Regions from separate parts of the Homo sapiens genome. Here region 2 is linked to region 1. The links come from fine-mapping of genetic effects on gene expression. A gene starts in region 1. The other region holds a variant in brackets. All regions are shown on one strand. Distances are from middle to middle. Region 1 holds the start of GNAQ (G protein subunit alpha q). Region 2 has its middle 40 kb from the start of GNAQ.

Region 1 (4,000 bases):
TGAGAGACTGCACTGGTTTTCGGTAGTAACTATTGTGAACTGAGGCCTACATCTAGGTTGCCTCATTAAACAAAAGATACCGGTCGCTGTCAACAACCACACAGCACAACGCTCCCCTACCCTCATCTTTATCTAGAAGGAATGGTGCAGACGAGAATAACGCCTGTCACCATCCACTGGCCAACTCTTCTAGGCTCCCTCCTTTCGATGGTCTGGTGGCTAGAGAACAGCACTTGTGTGACACATTTGGGCTTGCCCTCCCGCCTCGCCCCCAGTACACAGACCCTTTCCTTGGAGGGCCAACCACTTGGCTTCCTCACCATGAGTGCTCCGGGAATCCAGCTGCGAGTCTGCCCACCGTTCCCCCATTCCCTCCTGACCCCATAGGGCACTGATAATGGATGCACACCGGCCACTCCACCGCAGGCCATCCCCCAACGTGCCCCGGCTCCGCTCGCCACCCGCTGGGCCACACACACGGCTCCCCACGCCACCACCCCATGGGGTGCCGCGGCCACGACACTGGAAGTTCAACCCCTCTGCCCACCTTTCCACCCCCGCGCCTCTGGTCGGAGTGATCTGCCATTTAGCAGATGCACAGCAGATAAGGTACAGCCCTCAGGGACACGAAAAGGAACAAGCCAAGGCACCGGGCAGGGCAGCCCCGACCCCTGTGCTGCGTGTGTGTGTCGCTGTGTGTGTGTGTGTGTGTGTGTGTGTGTGTGTCTGTGTGTAACGCGCCCGCGCGCCCGCGCGGGTGAAGGCAGTGGCCGGGGGCGCGCCCGGGAGGGTAGGGGCGAACCGCGGGCGCCGGGGGGCGGGGGCGCCGAAGGCAGCTGCCCCGCAGGGCCAAGGATGGTGGGCTGGGGGCGCAGAGGCCCGGCGGGGCCCCGGACGGTACTCACCGAGCAGCAGCAGCTTGAGCTCCCGGCGGGCGTCCCGCTTGTCCCTGCGGAGCTGCCGCTCGATCTCGTCGTTGATCCGCCGGGCTTCCTTGGCCTCCTCGCTCAGGCAGCACGCCATGATGGACTCCAGAGTCATTCTTCCAAAGTGCCTCCGCTGCAGCCCCGCCGGCACCCCCTGCTCACAGCGCGCACACACACCCTCCCGCCCTCGCTCCCCCGAGGCAGCGGTGGCCGCCGAGCCCCCGCCGCCCGGGCGCGCGTCCGGGACGAGCTCCGGGAACCGCCGCGGGGGCGGCGGCCAGGGCCGGGGCCACCAGGTGGGCCGGGGGCGCGGTGGGAGCGGATAGTCTGGGCCGACGGGAGAAGAGAGGCGGGCGCGGGAGGCGGGCGCTGGCTCGGGGGGCGCGTGAGAGAAGGCCGCCGCGCCCGGCCTCGCTCAGACGCCCGCGCCTCCTTCCCCGGGAACAGGCGGCCCGCCTCGCCCCCCGAGCCGCCGCCGCCGCCGCCGCCTGCGAGGCTCCCCTACGCCGTGCGCCTGGCGGCGAGAGCTCATTCACCGGGGTGTCCCCGCAGCGAGCGGCCGCCGACGGCTCCCCGCGCCCGGCGCGCCCGCTCCTCGCCGCCGCCTGACACGGCTCCCGGGCGCCCTCGGCCCTGTCCGCGCCCACCGCCCGGCTCGCGCGCAGACCCGGTTCCCGTCCCGCCCGGCAACCGCGCGCTCCTCCGCCTCCGCCTCCGCCCCCGCCCCCGCCAGACGCCCACCCCCTGCCCCGATTGCCAGGCGCGGAGCGGCTGCTCAGTGCGAGCCCTCCCCCTCGCCACACACACACATTTTCTTCTTTCTCTGAACTGGAGCACAGATCCGGGAGGGAGGAGGCGGCGGCGAAAGGAGGAGGAGGAAGAGGCGGAGGGGATGGGCGCGGGAGGAGGGAGCCGGGAGGCGGTGCCGCCCGGCCCCTCCTGGAAGGCTTTCCTGGGCTCGCGGCCGCCGCGGCGCGCCTCCCAGTGCGGCTCTCGCCTCGCCCGCGCGGCTCCCGGGCTGGGCCGGCCCCCGCGGGCTCTGCGGACGCCTACTGCTCCCGCACCCTCGGCAGAGTCCGCGGGCGCAGCAGTCACGGCCGCCCCCGGCCGAAGTCGGGGCCAGACCCGGCCGCCGACGCGCAGCCCGAGCCGGCGGCCGCCGTTGCGTGCCAGGGCCGCAGCCGACCTGCGGCTGCCGTCCGGCCGGGCGTGGTGAGACAGGAATATGGCGGCCTCTGCCTGCCTCAGCCCACCGGCCCGGGAGCGCGGCCGCGGCCCCTGCTGAAGTCGCGGGAGGCGGCCCCGCGGAGCCCCGCACGCGCTCCCTGCGGCGCCGGCGCTGGCGTCCGCCGCTCCCGGGCTGTGCCTGTCTGCTCCACGGGGTCGCTCCTCAGCCGTTTCTGTGTTTCCCGTTCCTATTTCTAAAACGCCATTCGGTTAGAAACTCTCACGTCACCTCTGACACCGGTGCAGTCTTAGAAAATAAGCTCCTCTATACTGTGTGGGGCTACTGGGGAAGGGAAGGGAAGGAATTGGCACCGGTGCCCAGAGGTGTAGGGGGAGATTCACAGGCGAAGCTGTTCGCAAAGTAACGTGAGATAGAAATCTAAATCCTGAACAGAGAAAGGAAGCTGCCCAAGTTTCCAAGAGCCTCCCGATAGGTTCCAACTTTTCATGCCTTTGTTTTTTTGGTGGTTGTTGGTTGTTTTTGTTTTTTTAAGTTGTTTTTGTTTTTGTTTTACAAGTTCTCTTGTTTCTGAGAAGGCACACGATGTTTAGCCGCCGAGTAATCGAATTTACTCTTCTAGACTGAGATTGAATTATGGATGACTTATGGGAAAATGTAAAATAATGTGGAATAAAAGGAAAGGAAAGAATGAAATAGAAGAGAAACTAAGGAGGCCCCAGCAAAACGGCATTCTAGTTTTTTTGATTTGCAATATGTGATTGAGGCAGTAAACTGTCGTATGCACATTTCATTGTGATCGTCTACTGATAAATAGCACACGAAAATAATCTTGTTTAATCAGGCCCAGGAGATGAAACTCATATTGCTTCCTGCCTTAAAGGAACCTGAGGTCTTCAAAGAAAATTGTCTTTTATGAAGAGAACCGCTTTTTCACGTTTCATGTGTTCTCTGAAGTGTCCCTGGTGCAACCTGCTGATCCAGAGTGTAAGGTACGGTCATGACTCTGCTTTTGCTACAGATCAAGAACTCATATAGGGTTCTTAGACAACAGGTGTGTAACTTCCTTCTTTCTTTCATTTGCCATTACTCCACCGTTTCACACACATACACACACTCTAAACCACGATTTAAATCAAGCAAGTCAAGATATAAAATATATATTTTAGGTTCTCTGTTTAAAACCTAGAAAATAATTAAATTTCACCTTGCCCTGGAGAGCAGAGAGGGCAAACCTCAACCCTTTTATGTGAATGCCTACAGAGAACAGCTAGACTTGCTATGAAATTAAAATTTAAAATCAAGTGACTAAAGAAATTAAAGATTGAAATTCAGTATGCAAAAATAGAAAGTGGCTTCAGAAGAAAAAATTTTAAGTTTGCATCCTCCGAATATATGTATGTATATGAGCTTTGGAGAGACACAGAACACTGGAAAACCAAATGACAGAAAGCTTGAAGTCTCTGGTTACCTACCCAGGGATCCTCTGAGACTTTTAAAAATGTCTTTTAAAATGAGCCATCAGGCTATCAGGTAATATGTTTTGACTGAATTGTCCTATTATTTGATGAATTCATCTGTTTCAGCGGGCTATAGAGTCAGAGTCTGTTTTGTCCCCCCTGTATCCCCCCAACATCATGAACACTCCCTGGCAACTTAGATACTTAAATGGATGCAATGAATCAATAGGAGAATGTTTCAAGTATTGGGGAGAAACCAGGAAGTAAGAAAAACCAACACTCTACAGTGATAAAGCCATATATGGGTGTCAAGAAGGAAACAGGAAAAGAAATTCCAAGTCTGAGCCCAGATCTATCCAAAAACCTTTTCATATTATCTGGAGAGCGTTTGCCAAGCAAATATTCCTAGAGACTAAGTCAAACAAATA
Region 2 (4,526 bases), 39 kb after region 1:
GGATAATGTCATTTAACTTGTTCCTCTATCTCTCTTATTTCCCCTAAACTAGAACGTAGATTTACATTCTGATTGAATTCAGATTAATTTTTAAGGCAAGAATATATCTTAGGAGGTGTTCTAAATAAAATTTTTATAATCCATGGGCTAAATCTGATCTATAGACATGGTTTTACTTGGCCCACCCAGTCTTTTATGTCTTATTTGACCCATAGAGTTGAAAAAAAAAGAAAATATTAAGTAGTCTATGAATCAATCTGGGTTTTGGTGGGAAACAGATGACACTCTCAAACAAGCTTTTCCTAAAGGTTTGAACAGAGTTAAGAGAAGACAACAAAGTATGGCAAAAACACTTTGGTGCTTGTAACTGCCAAGAGCAGTCACAACCTCCATGTCTGGAAGGGCTTTGGACAGAAGCCTTTGGTAGAGGAGACAGTCATGGCCAGCCCAGTCCAATCCAATGCCTTGCAGAGAGCGTCCTGCTTCAGTGTCCTCTACCCTTGCATGACCCATGACTGATGACTCCCACAGGAGAAGCCCAACAGGAAGCCAGGAGGCAAAGAAGTCCATTGATGCCATCCCTAAAAGCCAGCCTCTCGACACAGAGCTGGAGCAGAAACTGATCCAGAATTACAAATGCAAGTTTTGTTTTTTGTTTTGTTTTGTTTTGGGACGGAGCTTGCTCTGTTGTCCAGGCTGCAGTGCAATGGCACGATCTTGGCTCATTGCAACCTCTCCCTCCCAGGTTCAAGCAGTTCTCCTGTCTCAGCCTCCCGAATACCTGGGACTACAGGCACCCACCACAACACCCAGCTAATTTTTGTATTTTTAGTAGAGACAGGGTTTCACCATACTGGTCAGGCTGGTCTCGAACTCCTGACCTCAGGTGATCTACCTGCCTCAGCCTCCCAAAGTGTTGGGATTACAGGTGTGAGCCACTGCGCCCAGTCGCAAGCATTTTTATATAAAATTCTAGATCTCCACCTTCTCTCATTATATGAGATGACTGGGCAACCCTGAGTCCTAGTGCTGACAATTGGCTAGTCCTGAGCATTGCCAAATGGTACACTAGATCTCAGATCTTTCCTAGGAAGAAAAGGAGAGGAGAGAGTGTAGAAGCCTGCAACTGGACCAATCACTTTCTTGGAAGAAGCTGAAATTTTAACCTAGAAGGAGTTGTGTTTGCTTTGAATTGGTCAGATTACCTTTTCTTCTATTAGAAGTAATCAAAGCTCATATGAGTTGGGCTCAGTTTGATTGGAGAAAAATAAAGAATCACATTTTTGCACGTGTGTATTGCATTAAGATGATTATCATCATGGTAACAAGAAAAAGAGTACAGAAAATAAATCTTCATGTAGTTAGAGGTATGCTGAATACACATTTTGGCTAATTGCCAAATGGCCATGGGGTAAAATAGATATTCTGCTGAGGACAGCAATCATATTTCAGGATGAACCTCTGGCCTCTAAAAATAAATCCAAGAATATTAACTTAAAAGTCATTATTACGAAAATTTTGTTTTAAACAATCTTAGTAATCAAAATGTTTGACATTACAGTGTAGGAATGAAAGTTTCTCAGCACTGCCAGCCTGTCACTTGTCTGCATTTTTGACTCTGAACATATATGACCACCATATACAGTTGCACAGGTTATACACTACACAATACTAGTAGTGCCATTCACTATGTGGGGGTCTGTAAATAGGCATTTTCTCTGTTGCTTTCTTCTCTTCTTAATATTCTTTTTTGTTTTTTGAGATGGAGTTTCACTCTTGTTGCCCAGGCTGGAGTGCAATGGCACGATCTTGGCTCACTGCCACCTCTACCTCCTGGGTTCAAGTGATTCCCCTGCCTCAGCTTCCCGAGTAGCTGGGATTATAGATGCCTGCCACCACATCCGGCTTTGTGTTTTTAGTAGAGACGGGGTTTCACCATGTTGGCCAGGCTAGTCTCAAACTCCTGACCTCAAGTGATCCACCTGCCTCGGCTTCCCAAAGTGCTGGGATTACAGGCGTGAACCACTCATGCCCAGCCTTCTTTATATTCTTTATTACCTCTGGAATTAAAGTTGGCTCATCATGGGTGTTATTATATATAATTTAAAAATATTCCTATCTGTGAAATGTTGAAGTGTAAAGTCAGTATTCTACTTTTAGTTTCCCCTATAAGATGAGAATTCATAAACAAGAATCTCCCTGTATATATTCATGGCCCAAATGACAATGGATCGGATTACATCAAATTCTTAAGAATTTAAGAATGTAATAACTTAAGGTTATTTTCTGTAAAGTTATAAACAAAAGTATATCAAACAATTTTGCAGATATTAGAATTATGGTCTAATCTAATCTTGAATAACATGCT[A/C]TTTATTATTTAAATTTTTATAAGATATATTGGCTCAAAAAGTATGATACTCTTCTTGGATGTTTCCAGCTATTTTCCTCTCTTAATATTCTTAAGCATCAATCTATATTCCTGTTCATCTAAGTATTTAAAAATTGTTTTGTGCTTTTGTATATAATTTTAGTGACATTAACAGTTGTCTTTAATTCTCATAGCATGTTAACTTACTGTAATAAATATGCATCTATTTCAACTAATAAAACTCCAATATATAAAGCACATAAGGGTAATTTTCACTTTAAGTTACATGTTGAATGAAAGAAAATATTTAGACAGTCATAAAAATATCTGAGTGGTAGATCTTATTGGCATAACTGAAGTTGTTATGCTGGTTATGTGTGATGGTGGAGTACCTGAATATATGATCATTGGTCATTGACGACGTTAAAAATATGAGGAATGAGAGTGAAAAGAGCAATCAGCTTTCTAGCTTTCCAAAGGCAAAGATTGAAACCAGAGCCAAAGAGCAAATTTTGGCAGAATATCAAGGCAGAAGTCAACATAAGTGTATCTATACTCATTGTCTGAAAATATTACTCTTCTGCATAAACTTAAAGATAAGTGCAGTGTGACTATTATGTATCTATAAAAATTTTAAATAAAAATAATAAGTGTATTATTCTGTAAAAACTCATAGACATTAGGGCAGAAGAAGTAGCTAAGATGTACTGAGAACTTACTATCTGGTTAGTATGCTGAAAATTTTACTTTTCATTATCCAGTTTAATCCTTTGACAACCATGAAGTCTGTATTATTATTATGCCCAGCTCATCGATGAGGAAATTGGAAAATAAATTTTAAAAAGATTATACTCATTGTGGGAGATCCATTCCAGTTTAGTTTAATCTGTGTGAGATGAGTCAACCCACTGAGATCAGGAATTTGCCATAGGCACCAGGTTTCCACAGAGAGAAGGGAGAGAAAAATGAACGTGTATCCACATCAGGGCTCATAATCTAACCTAACAGCTAGGAAGTGTGGGGCAGAGTGAAGGCACAGGGAATGTAGGTCAAAAGCAAGAAGTGGGATTGATGAGACCAGAGAGCAGGAGACAGAGTTAGGAAGCAAAGCTCCAGTTTCCTGAATAGATGTTTTTCACATTCCTGCAGCCATTACCTTGAGTTCTGCTGTTCTTATCTCTTTCCTGGACCATTGCTCAAGACTAGAGATGAGAATCTTAAACTTAGGTGGAGAGGCTAGAGAGTATATAATGCAAAGGTCTCAAAGAGTCAAAATGACTCAAACATTTCCCACCTAGCACAGCATATATGGTTTCGCATATGCAATCTAACTAAACATGAAAGTTTGAGAACTACTGAGCTAACATCAAAGCAGGAAGAAAAAGAAAGTCCATATGTCCGAGTGGTCATGCCAGGCTAGCTTTAAGATGACTATCAATTCCCATGTGTTGATGGCAAATAGGTGGGGAGTTCCAAAGTGTTTATTTGGTTTCATTAATATTAAACCTCTGTACCTTTAATGCATGCTAAGAGATTTTTTCTTTCTTGTTCTGGTTGTAAGGATTAAGAAGTCACATCTTACAAGGGGATTCAGTTGTAAAGTCTGAGCGTAAATTAAACTAAAGTTGCTGTTCTCTCAACTGTCTGAAATTTTCTGTCTAGAATGCAAATCTGATTACATCAAATTCCTGTATAAAATCCTTCCATTGACTGAGCTGCTGATCTTTGATGTCATTGCCAGAAATTACAAGGGACAATAGATGGATCAAAAGGCCAACCCCATCCCCAGTGGAGAGATGTTCCACGGCCCTTCCTCCCCGACATATAAACATGTGACCTGAGGGGCACTGCTGGGTCATAGTCTGGGATGTGGATCCCTTTACATTAGTTAAGCTACATGGACAGCTCAGCTAATGGCTACAGCCTCAATCACCATAGACGGTATAGTCCAAGGTGCCCTGACATCAGGAATAGTATATGAATTTGTATGGCTCATATTGAAACAAGGGTGTGCCAGTCCATGTGTTTGTACACTTACAAGAGAATTTGGTGGGGTGTGGGTCAGGAGTTGTTCACATTTGGGAACAGCTATTGATGGTGTCAGGCGTGAGCCTTTTTAAAATCTGGCTCCTGTCAACTCTCTGACATCATCCTCTGC

Evidence for each region. PIP is the estimated chance that this variant, and not a neighbour inherited with it, causes the effect.
Region 2: its variant is the best candidate, but not a certain one, in a credible set for the expression of GNAQ in blood mononuclear cells (TOPMed, PIP 0.60).

The regions. Positions count from the first base shown.
Region 1 is chr9:78,030,195-78,034,194 of GRCh38, forward strand. GNAQ (G protein subunit alpha q) reads right to left here and starts at 1,617. Exons shown (of 7, transcript NM_002072.5): 1 at 906-1,617. The coding sequence starts at 1,041. RefSeq lists an enhancer at 806-1,700.
Region 2 is chr9:78,069,349-78,073,874 of GRCh38, forward strand. No RefSeq gene overlaps it. Among named protein-coding and RNA genes, the nearest start is that of GNAQ, 40 kb to the left of the region's middle. The variant A/C (reference allele first, on the strand shown) is at 2,369.